5 linked regions of the Homo sapiens genome follow. The protein of the gene in region 3 interacts with the protein of the main gene of each other region in a pairwise test. Each region holds a gene or a part of one and is shown on either strand. Other genes may lie near its edges.

What was found.
Region 1: the proteins of LRP8 (region 3) and SCN3A interact in a two-hybrid assay, tested with the Homo sapiens proteins (one study listed by BioGRID).
Region 2: the proteins of LRP8 (region 3) and NOS1AP interact in a two-hybrid assay, tested with the Homo sapiens proteins (one study listed by BioGRID).
Region 4: the proteins of LRP8 (region 3) and MAP3K5 interact in binary tests that used the Homo sapiens proteins (3 or more experiments, as listed by UniProt).
Region 5: the proteins of LRP8 (region 3) and GIPC1 interact in a two-hybrid assay, tested with the Homo sapiens proteins (one study listed by BioGRID).

Annotation. Positions count from the first base shown.
Region 1 is NC_000002.12:165,158,552-165,162,827, forward strand, and holds part of SCN3A (sodium channel protein type 3 subunit alpha), read right to left. Parts: coding exon 4,005-4,276; intron 3,821-4,004; coding exon 3,757-3,820; intron 1-3,756. UniProt on the Homo sapiens protein: Pore-forming subunit of Nav1.3, a voltage-gated sodium (Nav) channel that directly mediates the depolarizing phase of action potentials in excitable membranes.
Region 2 is NC_000001.11:162,352,113-162,356,388, forward strand, and holds part of NOS1AP (carboxyl-terminal PDZ ligand of neuronal nitric oxide synthase protein), read left to right. Parts: intron 1-3,074; coding exon 3,075-3,241; intron 3,242-4,276. UniProt on the Homo sapiens protein: Adapter protein involved in neuronal nitric-oxide (NO) synthesis regulation via its association with nNOS/NOS1. The complex formed with NOS1 and synapsins is necessary for specific NO and synapsin functions at a presynaptic level.
Region 3 is NC_000001.11:53,321,316-53,325,591, forward strand, and holds part of LRP8 (low-density lipoprotein receptor-related protein 8 isoform 1 precursor), read right to left. Parts: intron 1-4,276. UniProt on the Homo sapiens protein: Cell surface receptor for Reelin (RELN) and apolipoprotein E (apoE)-containing ligands. LRP8 participates in transmitting the extracellular Reelin signal to intracellular signaling processes, by binding to DAB1 on its cytoplasmic tail.
Region 4 is NC_000006.12:136,561,478-136,565,753, reverse strand, and holds part of MAP3K5 (mitogen-activated protein kinase kinase kinase 5), read left to right. Parts: intron 1-3,138; coding exon 3,139-3,251; intron 3,252-4,108; coding exon 4,109-4,221; intron 4,222-4,276. UniProt on the Homo sapiens protein: Serine/threonine kinase which acts as an essential component of the MAP kinase signal transduction pathway. Plays an important role in the cascades of cellular responses evoked by changes in the environment.
Region 5 is NC_000019.10:14,478,377-14,482,652, forward strand, and holds part of GIPC1 (PDZ domain-containing protein GIPC1), read right to left. Parts: intron 2,403-4,276; coding exon 2,217-2,402; intron 2,110-2,216; coding exon 1,929-2,109; intron 1,149-1,928; coding exon 1,036-1,148; intron 390-1,035; coding exon 308-389; intron 192-307; coding exon 40-191; 3' UTR 1-39. UniProt on the Homo sapiens protein: May be involved in G protein-linked signaling.

The sequences.
Region 1 (4,276 bases), on a different chromosome or scaffold from region 3:
CTTTACCTAGATAATCCCTCACCATGAACCCCTGGAAAACACTATTTTCTTATCATCTCTGTTGCTTTGTGTTTTCTAGAATGTCAGGTAATTGAAATCATACAGTATGTAGCTTTTTGAGGTTGGCTTTTTCTCACTTAGAAATGTGCATTTAATATTCATTAATATTTGTTTGTATCTTGATAGCTCATTTCTTTTTAATCACTCAGTAATATTTTATTGTATGGGCATAACAATTTATTTATCTATACAACTATTGAAGGACATCTTGGTTGCTTCCAGTTTGGGGTCATTGAAGGGCATCTTGGTTACTTCCAGTTTGGGGTCATTATGAATACAGCTGCTATAAATATTCACATGCAGGTTTTTTGTGAAGACATAAGTTTTCAAATTGATCAGCTAAATACCTAGAAGTGCAGTTGTTGGATCATATGGTAAGACTATGTTTATTTTGTAAGAAACCGCCAAACTGTCTTCCAAGGCGGTTGTCTAGTTTTGCATTCCCACCAGCAATAAGCAAGAGTTCCTGTTATTCTGCATCCTCATCAGAAGTTGGTATTGCCAGATACATTTTTCAGTCATTCTAACAGATGTGCAGTGGTAACTCCTTGTTGTTTTAGTTTGCAATTCCCTAATGACAAATGATGTCGAGTGCCTTTTTACCTCCTTAATAACCACCTGTACTATATACTCGTGTGGGGTATCTGTTCAGATCTTTTGCCAGTTTTAAATTGGGTCATTTGTTTTCTTATTGTTGAGTTTTAAGAGTTCTTTAGATATTCTGGACACTGGTTTGTTGTTTTGTTTTGTTTTGTTTTCTTTTGAGACAGGGTATAATTCTGTTGCCCAGGCTATAGTGCAGTGGTCTGATCATGGCTCACTGCAGCCTCGACCTCCCAGGCTCAAGTAATCCTTCTGCCTCAGCCTCCTGAGTAGCTGGTACCACAGATACACTACACCATGCCTGGCTAATTTTTTTATTTTTATTTTTTGGAGAAACAGTGTCTCCCTATGCTGCCCAGGCCAGTCTCAAACTCTTGGGCTCAAATGATCTTCCCCTCTCAGCTTCCCAAAGTGCTGGATTACAGGAATGAGCTACTTCACCTAGCCCCAGTCTTTTTTTTTTTTTTTTTAAATCAGATATGTGCTTTGCAAATATTGTCTTCCAGTTGCTGGTTTGTCTTTTCATTCTCTTAAGAATATCTTTGTAAAACAGCAGCTTTTAATTTTAATAAAATACAAATCATTTATTTCTTTAATGGAATGTGCCGCTTAAATACAAAATGGTTTTGTATTTAAAACTCATCACCTGGCTCACTCCTGTAATCCCAGCACTTTGGGAGGCCGAGGCGGGCGGATCACGAGGTCAGGAGATTGAGACCATCCTGGCTAACATGGTGAAACCTGGTATCTATTAAGAATACAAAATTAGCCGGGCGTGGTGGCGGGCGCCTGTGGTCCCAGCTACTCGGGAGGCTGAGGCAGGAGAATAGCTTGAACCCGGGAGGCGGAACTTGCAGTGAGCCGAGATCGCGCCACTGCACTCCAGCCTGGGCGACAGAGCTAAACTCCGTCTCAAAAAAAAACAAAAACAAAAACAAAAATCTCATCACCAATGGCCAGGCGCAGTGGCTCATGCCTGTAATCCCCAGCACTTTGGGAGGCCGAGGCAGGTGAATCATTTGAGATCAGGCTCCCACTGATTCTACATTATGGTGACTTGTACAATTATTTCATTATATATTACAGTATGCTAATAATATAAATAATGTACACAATAAATGTAACGTGCTTGAATCATCCTGAAATCATTTCCCACCACCACCCTTGGTCGGTGGAAAAATTGTCTTCCACAAAACAGTCCCTGGTGCCAAAAAGGCTGGGGACTGTTGATGTAAATTACTTAAGCCATAATAGGAATTCATTAAGGGGAATAGATTATTATGGTTTAATAGGAATAAAGTATGTATTAACCAAATTTATCCAAAATTTTATCTGGGCTTTTATGTTAATCATCATCATAATAAATAATAGTTAATAGGCAATAAATTCTTTTCTTTTTTTAGAGTGTGCTTTTTTTTTAAATTTATTAAAAAAATTTTTTGGGGGGACAGGGTCTCGCTTTGTCATCCAGGCTGGAGTGTAGTGGTGCCATCTCAGCTCACTGCTACCTCCATCTTTCACGTTTAAGAGATTATTGTGCCTCAGCCTCCAGAGTAGCTGAGATACAGGTGTGCCCCACCACACCCAGCTAATTTTTGCATTTTGTAGTAGAGACAAGGTTTCGCCATGTTGGCCAGGCTGGTCTAGATCTCCTGGCCTCAAGTAATCCCCCTGCCTCTGCTTCCCAAAGTGCTGGGATTACAGGTGTGAGCCACCGCTCCCAGCCATTTTTCAGAGACAGCCTATCACCTAGGCTGGAGTGCAGTGGCATGATCATAGCTCACTGTGGCTTGGAATTCCTAGGCTCAAGCAATCCTTCTACTTTAGCCCCCTGAGAAGTTAGGACTACACGTGTGCATCACAATGCCTGGCTAAGTTTTTCTTTTTTTCTTCTTCTTTTCTTTTCTTTTTTTTCTTTCTTTCTTTTTTTTTTTTTTTTTTTTTTTTTGTTTTGTAGAGGTAGGGTCTTGCTTTGTTGCTTAGGCTGGTACATACAATAAATTCTTACAATTGTCCATGTGATAGTTCAAATACTTTATGTGTATTAAATCATTAATCATCACAACTATTAAAGGGACAGAATATTACTCTCTCCATTTTAACGATGAGTAAACTAAGGTACAGAGAGCTTAGGACACTTTTCCAAGGTCAAAGAGCTTACAAGTGGTGAAGTTAGGATTTGAACCCTGGTATACATGAACTCTACAACCTATGCTCTTACCCCCTACATTCATAATAAGGCTAGGAAAACTGTCAGGAAAAAAAATTCCCCAAAGCTCTATTTATATGACTAGTATACATTTTCATTAACTCTCTTAGATTTTTATGGCTACACCAGTTTCCCTTTTTAAAGGATGACTCAAAATATATTTAAGTTCCGTGTCCTAAGAGTCACTTACTATTGCTATCTCTCAGCTCTTAAAAAATTCCCTATTTTGATTTAAAATTAACTTACAATACTCTTAGGAAAATATTTAAGGGTTAGAGAATAACAGCATGACTAAGATATTATGGCATCTTTTGTTGTAACGTGTGGCCTAAAAGAACTATTCATTATGTCAACTGATACTTGGACATGCCTTTGGCACACATGCACCCTTGGCTTCTTTGTATACAGAAATACATGCTCCTTCAAGAATACTTAAATATTTCAAAGCACTTCCCCAAGTGTGCTTCCACCCTGAAGACCACATTATAGTCTGGGTCTTTTCCAGTCACGACAAAACTCATCCCATTGATACATATGTACACCAATAAAAAGGGGCCCATCTTGTGTTCCTGTGTTTCCTAACAGCTCTGATAGATGTACAGCAAAGACAGACTCTGGGCCTTCACACATTGGAGCATCAATTTAAGAACATCTTAACTGTGAAATTTTGGGGAAAGGTCTTCACAAAGGGATAATTTTTAATTGCTGTGAGTTTAGGACCAGTGGCAATCCGGTAAGGCAGACAAGGCACTTCCTAGGGGAGCAGCACTGCTCTTTATTGCATACATGGTAAGGCTACACATATAACCATGTAGTTGTTTTCCTACCTACTTTTTTTTTTCGCAAAGAGTTCTATATCTTAAAAAATATATTATGTTTCTTACCCTGCATCTGAGCCATTTCCACAGAGTAAAGGGTCTTTTTGCCCATCCAAAACATAAAAGTGACCTGTTAATACAAAAAAAAACCCATTTTATTTCATATTAATCCTATTCACATTAGTATTAGTAATAAATCAGAGTTGGACTATTTCAGTTATTTACAAAGGTGGCTGTACACCCACAGTCTCAACTATTTATAGTTGAAAATTCATTCAGCAACACTAAGGTTAACATAATGTAATACTTCTTACTGTCATCTCCAATGTAATCCTTCCAGTTAAATGTGCTCATTGTTACATTAACAAATGTCCCATTTGAATCCATTGTGCCATTAAAGTAGGAAGTGGTGTTGGTTTCAAAAGCAGAATCGCTTGGGGGCCACTGCAAACATTTATTCCTCAGATTGCCCATGAACAGCTGCAGCCCAATGAGAGCAAACACGCTCAGACAGAACACAGTCAGGATCATCACATCAGAAAGCTTCTTTACCGACTGGATCAGGGCCCCCACAATGGTCTTTAAA
Region 2 (4,276 bases), about 110 Mb from region 3:
GCAGTGGCATGATCTCAGCTGACTGCAACCTCCGCCTCCTGGGTTCACGCAATTCTCCTGTTTCAGCCTCCCAAGCAGCTGGGATTACAGGCATGTACCACCATGCCCAGCTAATTTTTGTATTTTAGTAGAGATGGGGTTTCACCATGTTGGCCAGGCTTGTCCCAAACTCCTGAGCTCAGGTGACCCACCCACCCCGGCCTCCCAAAGTGCTGGAATTATAGGCGTGAGCCACCGCGCCTGGCCTGCAGGCTCCTCTTCTACCTACCCCTTAAGTGTTGGAATTTCTCCTGGACTTGCCCCTGGTATTTTTTTTTTTTTCTGACATTCCATGATTTCAACTAAAGTTTATCTTTAGGCCAGGCCTTTTTCCTGAACTTTCCATTCATGCACTATAGTAATCTACACAGCCTGCCATAATAAAATGCAGTAGATTGGATGGCTTAAACAACATTTATTTCTGACAGTTTTGGAGGCTGAGAAGTCCAAGATTAAGGTGCCAGCCAATTTGGTTCCTGGTGAGAACTCTCTTCTGGTTCGCAAACAGCTGCCTTTTTGCTGTGTCCTCACAGGGTGGAAAGAGAGGGATCTCCTACATCGCTTCTTATAAGGGCATGAATCCCATCATGAGGACTGCATTCTCATGATCTAATTACCTCCCAAAAGCTCATCTCCAAGTGCTATTACATTGGGAGCTAAGGCTTCGACATATGAACACCAACATTCAGTCCATAACATACCCAACAGCCTAATAGGTATCCCTACTTGACTGTTACACAGACTCTTACAATGTCAACAGGTTTAAAACTGAACTCATCTTCTTACCTGCAATCCTGCTTCTCCTGGATTTTTCCTATAGGATGCCATTCTCCATTCAGTCACCTGAATCAGATATTTTAAGACTCATCCTGCACATATCCCCACCCCCGCCCCCACCACAGACAAGCAAACCCTGTGCTTTCTGCCCCCTGACGATCCTTCGAATCCATCTCTTCTCCATGTTATTGCCATTGTCTTCACTCAAGCCCTCATATTTTCCACCTAGAGTATCACTTTCTCTCATTGCTGCTGGATCTATCCTCCATACTATATCTAGAGTGAAATTTTGAAGGATGAAAATGTTTTGGTATTACTTGCTTTCAGTCCCTCAAGATAAAATGCTGACTCGTCCTGGTCAGGTCCCTCCCTACGGGACCACTTGCATTGCCTGACATGCCGTGGACTTCCTGCCTCTGTGCCTCTCTGCCCCTGCCCCCGCGCCCGGCCAAACCTGACAAATTTTCTGATTCCACCTGGGCTTCTGGCGAGGCCCTGTCCAAACCCTCTGTGTCTGGGGCTTCTTAGTTCTTGTTATTAGGATCTCCAGGGATGGGAAGTAGATAAGCAGCCTTCTCCTGCAGCCTGTTCTCCTGTTTTGCTACCCTGTCACTACATTACTTACTTTGTCAGTATTTATGGAACACTTTCTCTGTGCCAGAGAAACATTTTTAGGAAACATGAATGAGACACAGCCTGGCCTCAAGTCTGTAAGGGAAGACTGATGGCCAGGCACATCCAATATCATGTGCTAAGTGCACAGAACACTGCAGTAGCCCAGCTTCTCCTGATCACTGATAGAAATTTCACCCTGCTTTTTCCTGTACAGGCATGGAGAACCAAACGCTTAGTTCCCAGCACCACCCACCTACCGACCCTCCATCTCTCAGGCTAAGCACCCAGCCATCAAGACGGTCACTTCCAGGTGCAGGCTGTGGTAGAAAGCAGGCTGCTCCCTGTGCTCCCCGCCTACTGGCTGACCAAGGGGCAGAAGAGCTTCCCCTTCCCTGCCCCCACTAGCTGCAGTCAGAACCATCTTTTCTGTTAAACGCCTTTGCAGCCCTCCACAGGACTGTCTCCTCAGCTCCTGGAGTAGCCAGGAAGAAAACCAAGCCCACTGTTTACTTTCTAAATGCCAGGCTTGTTTCCCTTGATGACTTGTGTAGGTTTGCATAGGAAAACTTCTTAGAACAATTTGTTCTACAAGGCAAGCACTCAAATGGCCAAGGCCTGGTTGCCTGGGCTAGCTTCAGCACTGGGGCATCAGCTCTGTGTCTCCTGCTTTACATCCACCTGTTCCATTTTATAATTGGTGCGTGGTCTCTGAAAACTCATGAGAAATCTTATTTAAAGACGGCAGTAATTAACCTAATTGCAAATATAGAAAATGAAAATATTTCCTATGAAATGCCCAGGAGTTGTCAGATGTTTTTACAGAATCCCAGAAATAGGATCAAGGAAGGAAGATAAGTAGGAAATAGCAGGGCTTTCATACATTGGTATTAAGCAGTATGCTGTGCCTGTGGTTAAATATTAAGTAAAGACATGGCCATTGTCTTCAGTGGAAAGGAAGAAATGTGGGAAGTAGAAAAATTAGATAAGGAAGCATGGAAAAGCAGCCACCCCATCTCTCTCCTCCTCCCCGTGCCACTTCCTGCAGGCGTCTTCCTGGCTTCTGCTGTTGGTGAGAGGATCAGGCTCTGAGGGCTGGGAGATTGATACTGTGTTAAAATGCAGCCTCACATCTCCCTGCCTTATTCCTCAGTCATGGAACCCTACCTGTCCATCTAACTGAGCTTCTAATTCTGTAGTTAAAGAAACATGGCCCAGAGAGTGAGGGGATTTGCTTCTTGTCCAGCAGTTTATTGGAGGCCCAACCTCCTCATTTCTGGACCCCCGGGCCAGGGCCCTTTCCCTTGACTGCTTCCGTTCCTGAGCTGCGATGACATGGAGATGATCAGCATCCCCTTCTTCCAGTGTACCTTGTCAATATATTCCTGTGAACCTGGCAAAACTTTTACATCCAGGCTTGAGGAAGTATTGCCTTTTTTTCTGGACTTTGAAAAGATACTAAGATGAGAACATCTTACTGGGCTGGAAATGCACTTTAACGTACTTGAGTGAAAAGATGTGTGAAAATGTTACAAAGCCAGTGGCATCCCTAGGCTCAACATGCCTGAAAGCTAAAGTATTAGGAAAGGAGGACTTTGTTCTCGGTGTTTTCATTCTCTTCCCTCCCTCCCCTGTTGTTCCTGCAGGCCGCCAGCTCACTGGAGCCGAGAGGGCCTCCACGGCCACTGCAGAGGAGACTGACATCGATGCGGTGGAGGTCCCACTTCCAGGGAATGATGTCCTGGAATTCAGCCGAGGTGTGACTGATCTAGATGCTGTAGGGAAGGAAGGAGGCTCTCACACAGGCTCCAAGGTAGGCAAGAGATGGCCCATCTGTGTGATCTGCACACGTGTGCCCTCAGGTCATCAGTCACTTCCTAGCCCCTGCCAGCTCAGCTTCCGAGTGAGGCACTCCATGGCACAGTGGCGGTGCCAGAGCGCACTTCATTGCCTTTCAGAAGGTCTGACTTCCAGAGGGTCTGAACACTAGATGCTGCTGCAGGCCAGGATGCTGTGGAGCTGATTCCTGACACACATCGCCCTCCCCAAATCCCACCAATATTTGGTCTCCTACTCCCTGGCACCCTCTTCCCTTAACAGCATCTCATCTTTGCACAGTATTTTGCAAGGCTCACTCTGGCACACACACACACAGACTCCCCTGTGACTTAGCTAGTAGAGCAAAGTCAGTTTGGGCCCGCTCTGCCTGCAGTAGCGGTGGTATACCGTTGGTAATTCCTGTGGATAGCACTTTGGAGTCTGGAAGTTGGCCCACTGGATGTCAGAAACTGAGAGACCACCTTAGTCTTCATCAGCTCTAACCTAACATCATATAGGTGAGATGACTGTGGCATCTGGGGGTTCCTAATGTGATCCAATTAAGAAACTAAGAACTTGAGATCAAATTCCAACCTGAAGCCAAAGCTAATTAAAAATGTTTTAAACCCAGAAGCAAAATTACTGACCAATAGCTCTACCCTTAGATTCCCAGGCGGTTTATATCAGGGCACCTCTCTCTCTTTAACATTCATATCTTATCTCACATGGAGGTTTGGAGGGCAGTTCAGTTCTAAACTAGCTGCCTGACGTTTCCTTTGGAACCAGTTTATCCTCTACAAGTGGAAACAGCCCTGTGTCACTGGGGGCCTTCCTTGTGTATGTCTGAAGAAGTCCCCACAGCAGAACTGCCAGAAACAAAATGTCTTTCCCTGCCATGGAATTCTATGAATCGTAGAAGCCATCTTGGTAAAAATGTCCACAGGAGAGGGAGACAGAAGGAAAGGAGGGAAGGACACAGGAACTTCTTTCATCTAAGAGGATCTCTCCAGATCATTATATATTTTAGGAT
Region 3 (4,276 bases):
TGTGGGCATTTGGGGGGCAGGTGCTACCAACGTTACTTAGGCCTGGGGCTGCAAGGCCTGGCTCCACAACCCTAAGGACACAACCCCACACCCTCCCACAGACCCCAGTGCTGGCCCCCTGGGACAGCATGGGCCTGGGAGTAGACCACTAACCTGGTGCTGGGAGAGCATGCATGCATTTACTTCCTTCAAGGGCGTGCCTGTTCCATCCGCCCTCTGGGCTCTCGCTCCTCACTGCCCCCTGGGGGTCTCTCTCTCTCTGGCTTCACCTGCTACCAGCATTTCCCCAAGGAGGAAAGTTGTCAAGTCGGCCACCAGCAGACAACTGGGGAGGAAGAAGCCAACCATCCCTGAGGCCCAAGGGACTCACACCGGGGAATGCTGACCTGGGAGGGCCCAAGGGAAAGTCTTCAGCAAACACTCCCAAGGCCTGCTAGGGCCTGCTGGGCAGTGCCATGGGGGATGCAGGCCCTCCTCTCCTCCCCAGGCACAGCCAAGAGGAAAGGAGCAGACAGGACAGAAGCCAGCCTCTAGGACCAGCACACAGCCAGAGGGAAGCCATCCGCTGCCCCTCCTAGGGCCCTAGGCCTGTTTGACTCATTTCTTCCCCCAGCTCCTTTCCAAGCAGCTTTCTGTCACCTCTACGGTGGCTGGGCAACTCCCTGGCTGAGGCGAGCACCAGCTGCAGGAACCTCGACATCTGGCTAAGCAGACAGGAGCAGGGGAAGCAAGGGGTCCGGGTTGGCCTGCAAAGACCAGACGTCAGGTACCTAGAGACCTCAGTGAAACCCCTCCCACCAAGAACAACCTCACCCACTGCCATTCACTGAACACCTCCTGCTTACCAGGCATGTGACCTCATTTAATCCTCACATTTAATCTCCGAAAAGGAGGGCCTAGTATCATCCTCACAACCATTCATCCAGGAGGCGACAGCTGGGATGTAAAAACCAGGTGTGTCTGAGTTGTGACTTTGACATGGGTCTCTAAGTAACTCAAATCCTGTATCTCAGCCTGGAGGCAATGGGGTGTCAGGGAAGGCTTCCTAGAGGAGGTGACACCTGCACCGGATCTCTTAGGATGATAAAATGAATCCAGCCAGTGAGGGAGCAGGGTGTCCGGCAGGAGGAATAGCACACACAAAGGCCTGGAGGTGAGAAGCAGCAGGAGGGTGAGAGTGTGGCAGAAGCTAATTTGGTGTCACAGGCTCACAGGAAGAGGCGGGAAGAGGTTGCAGGGAAGTGGGTAACAGGAGCAGGTCACAGAGGGCCAAATACAGAGGAGTCTACACTGACTTTATTCTCTGGATAGTTGGGAGCCCCAGGAGGACTCTGGATGGTGGAGTTGCCCGGTCAGGTGAAGACGGGGAGGTTCAGAAAGGAGCCACACTGTCGTCAGATGGCTCCATCCACGAAGGAGATGAGGCTGGGTCCAGTGTCAGGAGCACACGTCCAGGCCGCACACTGAGGGCCAGATGCGGGCTACAGCACAGGCAGGGAGCTGTGGCCGAGCTTTAATTATTTATGAGGCTGTTTCCCAGCAAGACTCAGCACTCCTGCAGCCTGGCCTTGCCCAGCTAATGAACTCTCAGCCATGGGAGACCTCCCTGTGGCCACTCTTTATTAAACCTGGGATGGAGGGGTGATGGGTGCTGGGATAACAAAAGAGTCCAAAGAAGCCTGAACAAAGTCGAGGTCAGTGAGCACAAAACTGGTCCACCTGTCTACCCAGCCTTTCCGCGAGAAGCACAGAACTTCCTAGAGGAGGAAGCGAGGTGGAGTAGCCTTAAGATGTCATCTCAAGACAGGGAAATGAAGGCCTGGGAAGGACCTACCTAAGTCACCAGCCAGTACTTGAGACAGTACAAGTTCCATAGCTGGTCACCCGCATTCACACCCCAGCAGTTCTACACCCTTGGGCCAGTTACGTAACCCGTCTGTGCCTCGATGAGATAGGACTATTTCAGGTACTTCATAGTGTTGCCCCATTTTATAGAATAGAGGAACGAGGGGCGATGTGTGGACAATCTCAGCACGATGCCCGGTCCACAGCAAGTGCCCAGACAGCGTTCATCGGCGCTATGGTTACTGTTGTGACTCTGGGAGTAAAGGCCAGGCCAGAGACCGGAATCTCTGCCTCTGCCCCCAGACACTAGGGAGCAACAGGAAACTGAGGCCCAGGGGCCAGCTGGCCTACGTGACCCAGGCCCACAGCCAGGAATCCCACCCGACTTCCCCTGGCTGGGCTTCCTTGGGCCTGGCTCTCTAGCTTCCAGCTCCTTCCTCCACTTTGAAGGTTCTTTGAGCTGAGAACTAAAGCCCCAGGAGCTTTTCCCTCTTCCATCCCGCAAGCTCCATCTGTGTCTCCAAAGAGCCAAGTCCCAGCCACTGTGGATGAGGCTCGGGACTTAGAAGGCCTCAGTTTGAGTTCCAGCTCCAACCCTGAGGAGCTCTGTGACTTTGGGGGAGTCACTTCACCTCTCCAAGCCTATGTCCTCTATAATATAGGAACAATACCACCTGTTTTTAAATGGTAAACTCTGGGGGAATGCTATTAGTTACCATCTTTCAGGCCTAGTTCAGCAGTCTCCTCCTCCAGGAAGCCTTTCTTGGCTTCCTTAAAAGTTCCCTCCTTCCAGCCTCTTGGTATTCAGGGGCTGCATTCTGGCCCCTTTGGGAACTTGGACTCATTTTGCCTCACGCAGACTCTATCTACAAATTCCAACCCCCATTTTGCAGGCCCAGAGATGTACAAAGGTGGGGCAGCTCAAGCCCTCTTGCAGGGTGGTGTGCCAAAGAGGGTGGTCAGGGGTAAGGCACGGAGACTGCTCAGGGAGGAGCAGATTTTGTTATCCCAGCACCTATCACCCCTCCATCCCAGGTTTAATAAAGAGCTCCTCAGGGACGAGCCAACAGCTCTCTCTCCTGCAGGGAGAACAGTTCAAAGAAATTCAGTCTGGGCAGGTGGCCTAGAATGCGGGAAGGGCTGAGGAAAGAACATTTTCCAGCACCTGGCCCCAACACAGCCACGTAAGCCCCACTCCGTTTCTTCAGTTTCCCTTTATGGCTACCAGGAGTCCGTTTCTAAAGGCCGTGGAGGTGGGAACACTCATCCATCCGTTCCCTTCTTGCCAGCCCTGTGTGTCTATGTGCACAGCCAGCGTTGGAGGGACAGCTGCCCCTGTTTGGCAGATGAGGAAACAAGCTCAGAAAAGCCAAGCCATGTGTGATTACTACTTGGTACTATCAGCAGCGCCGCCACCCTTTCCACTCCAAGCTTGACGTCATTCACTTTTGTTTAATAACTCCCTGCCTATGACTCTACCCCATGCATCTCAGAGCCATGCAGGAGCCCAGCTTGGCCATTGGAGCTCTCTTGGCCCACCTGAGCGTCACTCAGCACCCAGCTACTTTACTCCTCCATCTCGTCCAAAGCCTCACATGGAGCTGAAACGCACCAGGCCTAACATTTAAAGCCCGTCTTTCCAGCTCCTAGATCACACTCCTGGTGCTTTCCGCACCACACTCCCCACCTCAGCAGACAGTGCCCTGAACTCGAGGCAGGCAGAGATCCTGACCAAGTTCTGTCATCCTGAGCTGTGTGACCTTGCATAAGTCACTCAACTTCTCTGAGGAGGCATCCTTATCTAGAAAGTAGAATGACAAGAAAATTTCTGCTTTTCACAGCCATCCTCACAAGGACAGTTGTTATAAAGAGCCAGGGAGATAAGGCATAACCAGCCCAGACACGCAGTTTCTATTCCTTGCCTCGTCCTCAGTACTCCCACTCTAAGGAGACCACAGAACAACTCCCAGTGAGGAAACTCACTGCAATATTTTACCAAGGCACAGCCATTTTCATAACCTCAACAGCACTGGGAAATGGTCCAGGGTCATGATTAGACTAAGAACTCTAGAGTTAGATGCTTAAGTTCAGGCTCCTACTTAACAACTCAGTAGCTGCTAAGCAGGTAACTTCACAGTTCAGTGCCTCAGTTTTTGTTGGTTTGTTTGTTTTGTTTTTTAATCTCTAAAATAGGACTGTTATGAAGATTAAAGGAGTTTATACAAGATAAGTACTTACTGCAGTGCTTGGCACAGTTAATGGTCAGCACACATTAGTCTCATTACTTCCAATTTCGCTTCTAGAACTGGTCCTCAAAACAGTCCAATGATGTTGCTGGGGCAGGAATTATGTGAACCCAAGTGGTCAGGTGAGGAAACTGAGGCAGGAGGGAAAGATGTGCTAGAGACATAGACTCAGTCAGTCTAGTTCT
Region 4 (4,276 bases), on a different chromosome or scaffold from region 3:
TAATTGAAATAAGGGACCAGTCCTGTCCATATTGGTCCTTCTAATTTTCAGTTGAATATTACCTGAAATATAAAGGCATACCTACCGCAAAATGAATCTAGAGGAAATGTTAGTGTGTTTTCAGGAAAGGTTGTAGCTCTCATATTAAAAATTGTAAGCTTAGAATATTTAGGATGATCACTGATGAAGGGAAATCAGGTTTATCCTGCTTGGAGGATCACCTGAGCCCAAGAGGTTGAGGCTACAGTGAGCCATGATTGCACCATTGCACTCCAGCCTGGGTGACAGAGCAAGACCCTATCTCAAAAACAAAAACAAAAACCTGTCTCAAGAGGAGCTGCCTGTTTATTTAATTTCCCCATCCTACAGTTCTGGAATTACCCACCAATCCACCTCATCACCCCTGCCCATCCAAGGTTAAAAATTGACCTCATGGCAGATCCTGCCATACTTTTTTGGAACAGAAAGGCAGACAGTTGCCTTGATTTCAAAATATTGCCCTGCTAAATAAACACAAAATAAAAATAAAATTGATGTACTGGATTGTTCTTAAGATAAATACTTCTAAGAGCTGGATTCGGAGCAAATGAGGTGGGCTGTCAATACTCTGCTTCCAGTGTTGAAGTTCTGGTGTTTAAGGTGTTAAAAGAAAGCTTCAGACAAATTAAATTTAATGGAGTTTAATTGAAAAAGAAAAAAATAGTTTGTGAATCAGGTGGCCTCTAGAATCACAGCAGATTCAGAGAGATTCCAGGGATGCCTCGTGGCCAGAACAAATTTATAGAAAATAAAAGTAAAGTGACGTACAGAAATCAGAAGTGTGCAGAAAGAGCTGGATTTGTTATGGGTTGGCGTTCACCTTATTTGAACACTCAGCAGTGTATGAGTGGTTGAAGTATGGCTCCTGGGATTAGCCAAGACTCAGCTATTGTTATAGACGCATACTCCTAAGTTAGGTTTTCAATCTTGTCTACCTGTTAAGTTATAGTTTGTCCACGAGGACTCAAATATGCAAGTACGGAGTCCTTCTCAGGCCATATTTCATTCACTTTAACAAAAGATAAAAAGAAATTACATAGTCTAGACAAACATAGGTTAAACTCTAGAAAACATCACTGTGTTCCTTGAGAAAACAGTAAGAAGATACCATCACTGTCTTATACGTATAAATTAGCAAGTAGGACAAAAATACATACCAGATCAAAAAACTGCCAACTTAAACATTCACACAGAGCTTCCTGCCCATTTCTTTGGATAATATTTGTTTTGAAAGAGATAAGAAGCCTCCCTCCAAGACCCTGTGCTCCCTCTTCTAGCTTTCAGTTCATGCTGCTTCATCCACCTCATTGTGCACCACACTTACCCTGCAGCTGTCTTTGTTAACTTATTTTCCTCCACCCACCTTCTCTGTCTACCTCTTATTGTGTTTTACTTTTGTCCCACCTCTGCTACCTACTCTGCTGTGATCCCTTCTCTCTGAGGATCTCATCTTTATGTCCTGTGGGAATGGGGTCGAGCCTGGGGGTCTGGGAAGGTTTCCTTCCCACTGAGTCCTGGAAAGGCTCTTTTCCAGGGACTGAGGTAGCAAGGAACAGAACATCCCTTATTAAAGACCAGACACTGACTTGGCACTGTACCTATGCTGTCTCATTTAATGCTCACAATAATCTTTTCTGGAAGCTTTAGTTTTCTTTTTTACAAATGATTTGAAAACTGAAGCCTGGAGGCATTAGGTAATTTATCTAAGGTTAACACAGGAAGTGCAGGGTTGAACCAGGACACAAGCCCAGATCTGTCAGTTGCACGATGCTGCCTTCAGATTATGTCAAGTGAAGCAGAAACAAACTCTTGAGTTAAATCTATCAATACTCAGAAAATGAAACAAATAGAGTTTGTTAAGAGCTGTAGTTTATGCAACGATTTATCCTGATAATCTTAATAACGATATATTTTAAATTATTATTTCTGAATCCAACTTACATTAAGATACTTTTCTAAAAAATTAGAGCACCTCTTTTCATAACTTGGAATGTTTTCTTTGAGAAATTCTATTGGAAATGGTGAGTAGGTTACCAGTTGGCTCTCAGTTGCATAGTGAACCTTCTATGGGTAAGAACTTTGGTATGAATATCACAGTTTCTCCTTGTTTCTTTGGAGACTGCATCAGATGCCAACTAGGAACTGAATGTACCAGGAACACAGCTATCCTTTTACCCACTTCACCCCCGCCCCCTTAGAAGGAAGAGGAATAATAGTAACAATCACAATTGTAGCAACAACCGTGAACATTTACTGAGAATTTGTTATATGCCAGATATTCTAGGCGACCTCACCTATGACTGTTTCTCAAATTTTCATAGTTTACAAAAAGTGATTACTTTTCTGATTTGCATTGATTATGAAATTATGCACATTTGCCAACTTTTTTTAATGGGGGTCCATACATGTAAAATATAGGCCTGTTAATATCTGTATCCCATATTTATATCTTTGACATTTATGGTCATAACAAGAAATATCAGGACACATCTCTGAAGATTTTGGCAGACAATCTGTGGTGGAGGTTTTGAATTCTTGTCGGCAAGCACAGTCTTCCAAAGCTTAGCTTCTGGACCTGAGGGTCTGTGAACCTGCAACATCAGTGTCATCTGGGAGCTCATTATAAATACAGTCTCAGAACTCACCCCCGGGGCACTGGACCAGTATCTGTATTTCAATAAAATTAGGGGTGTATGTGCTTATTATAGCTCATGTCTAGAAGGTCATCCTAGGCCTGGCACAGTGGCACATGCACACACCTATAATCCCAGAGCTTTGAGAGGCTGAGGTGGAAAGACCACTGGAGGCCAGGAGTTCAGAGACCAGCTTGGACAACATAGCAAGACTCTGTCTCTACAAAAAAAAAAAAAAAAAAAATTAGCCAGGCATGGTGGTGCATGTCTGTATTCCCAGCTGCTTGGAAAACTGAGATGGGAGGATCGCTTGAGTCCAAGAGTTTAAGGATGCAGTGAGCTATAATTGGGCCACTACACTCAGCCTAGGCAACAGAGAGAGACCTTGTATCTAAAAAAATAAAAATAAAAAAAAGAAGGTCACCCTGTGTCACCTCCTGTCAAACAATATATTTTTCTTCTGCAGATTACTGGAAGAATTGGTTCGGAAAGAGAAAGAATTACAAGCACTCCTTCATCGAGCTATTGAAGAAAAAGACCAAGAAATTAAACACCTGAAGCTTAAGTCCCAACCCATAGGTGAATAGCAGAAAGTTTTATAGTAATACTGTTCAGCCAGGCTGCCACAAAAAGCCAAGAAAGCCAACAGGAAGTTTTATTTGTGGCTAAGTCAGCATTTCTCACTTCTACCATGACTGCAAGCAGGAATTCCTTTAAAAAAAAAAAATCCAGTTTTTAACTGTAGCAAACTCATTTCTTATAAGTGCAGTAAAAATAGATTATTCATAATCATCTTTTCCTGAGATTATGTATTACTGAGGTAAACAGGGCTCTCTGTTTTTAGTCTTTATTTTTAAAGATTTCACAATGAGCTTACTAGAATAAATAATACTATTTTTTGTCATTTTGCATTTATATTCTGTGTATTCTAGCCTTTTTCCTTATAATTTGAAGAGGCTTAAATAGAATAAAGATGTAGTAGTAAAAAGGCATAGCTGGGGAGAATGTTATTTAGCCCATTTAGAGGAAAACAGAATTCATAGTTATTTGTTTAGATATGTGGCTCTTTCATAGTGGAAAAAGAGATTATGATAATTATATAGTTCTCTGCTAATTGTATTCATCTTTATTGCATGAAAAACACAAAGTCTAATTTTGGTGCACAGAGTTTATTCTAAGAAACCATAAAATTGATATGAAAGTGTAACGTAGGAGTGTCATTTCATTATTGCTTTTGCTCCTTATTTACTAGTAAATTCACTTCTCTGAGTTTTATTCATATTATCATCTATACTGCCAATCTCAATTGTTTCTATGAACTGTTCTCTGATAGAGCAAAATCTTTTAAAGTATCAATAAATGTCTGTTGATTGTGAGGGTCTCAGATGACCTCTGTTAGGTGAAATTAAGAATATCTTCCCAAAATTCTGTTCTAGAAATTCCTGAATTGCCTGTATTTCATCTAAATTCTTCTGGCACAAATACTGAAGATTCTGAACTTACCGACTGGCTGAGAGTGAATGGAGCTGATGAAGACACTATAAGCCGGGTAAAGAAAACTGTCTGTGGGACAAGTATTCTTTCACTTCGTTTCATAATGTTGG
Region 5 (4,276 bases), on a different chromosome or scaffold from region 3:
GTTGCGCCCGGGTCATCATCGCAGGGTCCGGGGGCAGTCCTAGTAGCGGCCGACCTTGGCGTCCCCAATGGCGCCCCAGACGTCAAAGACGAACTCGTCAGGGAAGGCAAAGTCACCCAGCCGTTCGTCCAGGGCCTCGGCCAGCTCATCCGGGTTCCTTTTGTCCTTTCCCAGCTCCACCATGGTGGCCGCTATTGGGGGAGGGGTCAGAACGGAGGCACAAATGACACCAGGGACCAAGGGGCTCAGGGTGGATTCGGCCCCCAGCAGACCTAGATGCCCCCTCCCCCAGGCAGCCCTCACTCACCCAGCTCCGTGTCCCTGATACCCATGTAACTCTCCAGCAGGTCATCCACCTTCTCAATGGCCTTCTCTTCAAAGGCAGAGGGCTGGGGGCCAGGGAGGGGTGACAGCGACATCATAACAATGTGAATATACATAGTAATTGGACGGACTGCCATTGTCACCACTTTACATATATTCGTATTTAGACCTCAGGACAACCCTGAGAAGGTGGTATCGGTGTTCAGCTCATCCCCATTTTACTGATGGGCAAACTGCGGCCCATGTGCCCAAGGAAGGTCCCTGGGAGCTGGGAAGTGGCAGAAGTGGACTAGAATCCAGGCTGTCTGCCCAGAGTCCCCTCAGCTAACAGGTAATGCTGCCGGTTATGAAAAGGAAGGGAGGGCTGGGCGCGGTGGCTCATGCCTATAATCCCAGCACTTTGGGAGGCCAAGGAGGCTGGATCACCTGATGTCAGGAGTTCGAGACCAACTCCTGGCCTGGCCAACATGGTGAAACCCCATCTCTACTAAAAATACAAAAATCAGCTGGGCATGGTGGTGGGCACCTGTAATCCCAGCTACTTGGGAGGCTGAGGCAGGAGTATCGCTTGAACCTGGGAGGCAGAGGTTGCAGTGAGCCGAGATTGCACCACTGCACTCCAGCCTGGGTGACAAGAGTGAGACTCTGTCTCAAAAAAAAAAAAAAGAAAGGGAAGGGATGCCGGAGATAGGGTCCGGCTGGAGCACTCACCAGATCCTCCACCGTGGCGGGGCCCCGGGATCGGAGCCGCAGGGTCCCTCGGCCAGTGCCCAGTTGTGGGCCAGAGCCAGGGCGGCCACCCGCTGAACGCTGGCTGATCATGTCTGTGGGAGGCAGGAGAGGAGTGAGTGTGGGGGAAGCTTGGTTTTAGCACGTTCTGGGCAGGAACTTGTCCTTCCTGGCTTTCACCACCACCCCAAACTTCTCCAGGCTTCTGCAAGTTTCTGGGGGCTGGGGCCGGGGTGATCCCAGGAGGGCAGGAATCCTGACTCAGGCCTGGCATGGATGTGGGGCAGAGCAGGGGGAACAGCTGGGGGCCAGGAATAGGAAATGCTGGAGGGGAGACTGGAGGGGCCACTTCTGCTCCCAGGGGCTGGGGGACAGGAAGCAGGTGTACCCCAGCCTGAGTCTCCAGCTGCCTGAGTCCGTCTCCTCTTGGCCAAGGGGGTATGGCTGCTGGGCCACAGACCAGCCCTACCTGCCCAGGGAAGTGATTTAGTCCCCCACCCCCACCTCAGGGGCCTGGGGCCCATTCCTGAGAGTTAGTGAAGCCAGATGGAAAAGTGGGGGGGCTGGCACTGAGCAGTCAAGCCTGGCCTGTTGGGGATAGGGGGCTGGCCAGGGCTGAGGGCGCTTGGCTGGGCTAATGGCCCCTGGAAGCTAGGTGTGAGGGCAACTTCCTCCTCGCCCCCGCCCTTCTCCCAGGCTGGGCCAAGGGCCAGCACCCCGTCTGGGGTCGGGAGGAGCTGCAACCCCTTCCCTTTCTGCAACCCCTTCCCTTTCGGCAGGCCAGGCTTGGGCGCCACCTGCTGGCCGCTCCCGGCACCACCGCCTGCGCCCATGCGAGCAGCGCCACTGGGGAGGTCCAGGGGGCGGCTCCTCACCGAAGGCCTTGCGAGGCTCCGTGAGCTTCAGCGTGAAGGTACGGCCTCGGGGCAGCTCCTTGAGCAGCCGGGCCACCTCGTAGTGCCGGCAGCCCAGCAGGCTCTGCCCGTTAATGGCCTCGATCATGTCGCCCACGCTGATGAGGTGGATGTGGTCGATCACGCTGCCCTCCTTGATGCGCTGCGGGGGCGGGGAGTCATCAGCCCTTGGGGCTCTGCCCTGGTTTCCGGGGTCCCATGGCCCACCCTCACTCCCAGGCCTCCGGGGTGCCCCGTCTCCCCAGGCACCTTGATGAAGGCGTAGCCAGCCCCGTTGTCCGTGATGGTGAGCCCGAGTGCATCCTCCGACTTGAACACCTCCACCTCCTTGCGCTGCCCCTTCACGTGGGCGAAGATGAAGTCCTCCAGCCCGATCTGGCCCCCCAGGAGCTTGTCCATGTCCACTTTGTGGGTGTTCAGGGTGCAGAACATCACCTGCAGGGGTGGGAGACGCTGAAACCTCTTCCCCCTCCCTCCCCCTTTTCTAATCACCACTGGAGGGCGAAGGGAGAGAGCTGGGAGAGGACTAGGGGGATTCCATCCCAGTAACTCATCACCCACTGAGCCTGAGCCAGGGCCACAGCAGGGCCCACATTAGCGTGTCAGCTCTGCTAGGACTAGGATTTAGTTTTCCTTTCTCTTTTTGAGACAGGGTCTTGCTCTGTCACCCAGGCTGGAGTGCAGTGGTGCCATCATAGTCACTGCAGCCACAACCTCCCAGATTCCGGCAATCCTCCCACCTCAGCCTCCCAAGTAGCTGGAACTACAGGTGCTCGCCACCATGCCTGGCTAATTTTTGTATTTTTTGTGGAGATATGGGGTCTCACTATGTTGCACAGGCTGGTCTCCAACTCCTGGGCTCAAGTGATCCTCCTGTCTCAGTCTCCCGAGTAGCTGGGACCACAGACACGTGCCACCACACCCACATAGTTAAAATAATTTTTTTTAGAGATGGGAGCCTCATTATGTTGCCCAGGCTGGCCTGGAACTCCTGAGCTCCAGTGATCCCCCCATCTCAACCTCCCAAGTAGCTGGGACTATAGGTGTGCACCACTGTACCCAGCTAGGATTTCGGTCCTAGCAAAAATTCATTGCTGTGCCAGGTGCGGTGGCTCACGCCTGTAATCCCAGCACTTTGGGAGGCCGAGGTGGGCAGAACACGAGGTCAGGAGATCGAGACCAACCTGGCCAACATGGTGAAATCCTGTCTCTACTAAAAATACAAAAATTAGCTGGGTCTGGTGGCGGGCGCCTGTAATCCCAGCTACTCGGGAGGCTGAGGCAGGAAAATGGTTTGAACCCAGGAGGTGGAGGTTGCAGAGAGCCAAGATCGTGCCACTGCACTCCAGCCTGGTGACAGAGCAAGACTCCATCTCAAAAAAAAAAAAAAAAAAAAAAAAAAAATTCATTGCTGCTTTCAGGGAACGGAGCCTGGCACACAGTGAGTGCTCAGGAAATGCTTGTGGAGGACACAGAAACTCATCCCACTTAGGGAGACCCCTGCGTCTACTTCTTGCTCAAACCCACTATTGCCCTCCTTGACCCCCTCCCATCTATCCCCACAGTGCTTGGCACCAGGCAAGCCTGCCTCCCACAGCGTTGAGTTTCTCCAAGGCATCACGGAGAAGTGCATCTCGTATCTGGCCTCTAGCCTCCACCATCTCATGGGGCACTGGCCTCCCAATGCCTGACAGGAACTCAGCATCCAGCCCTGGCCATCAGCTCCCACAGTCTGTAGAGGTGCAGGCCTCTCAGTGTCTGATGGGAACTCAGCATTTAACTGTGGCCATCAGCTCCCCACAATCTACTGGGGTGCAGGCCTCCCAACGCCTGATGGGAACTCAGCGTCCAGCCCTGGTCGTCAGTTTTGCACAATCGACTGGGATGCAGGCCTCTCAATCCATCCATCCAATCAATCCATCCAGCCCTGGCCTCCCACAGTCCATTGGAGCTCAGGTCTCTCAGTGCCTGTTGGGAACTCAGCATCCACCCCTAGTCTTGCACAATCTACTGGGGGTACACCCCTCCTAATGCCTGATGGGATGTCAGCATGCAGCCCTGGCCATCAGCTCCCACAATCCACTGGGGCACAGGTCTCCCAGTGCCTGATGGGAACTCAGCATCCAGCCCTGGCCTCCAGTTCCCCACAATTCACAGGGGCACAAGCCTCCCAGTGCCTCATGGGGACTCAGCATCCAGCCCAGGCCATTGGCCCCCACCACTGAGTGGGGCCCAGGCTCAGCATCTGCAGCTTCAGCATCTGAGCCCCAGCTCATGAACAGGATGCAGGCCCAGACCTCTGGTCCACC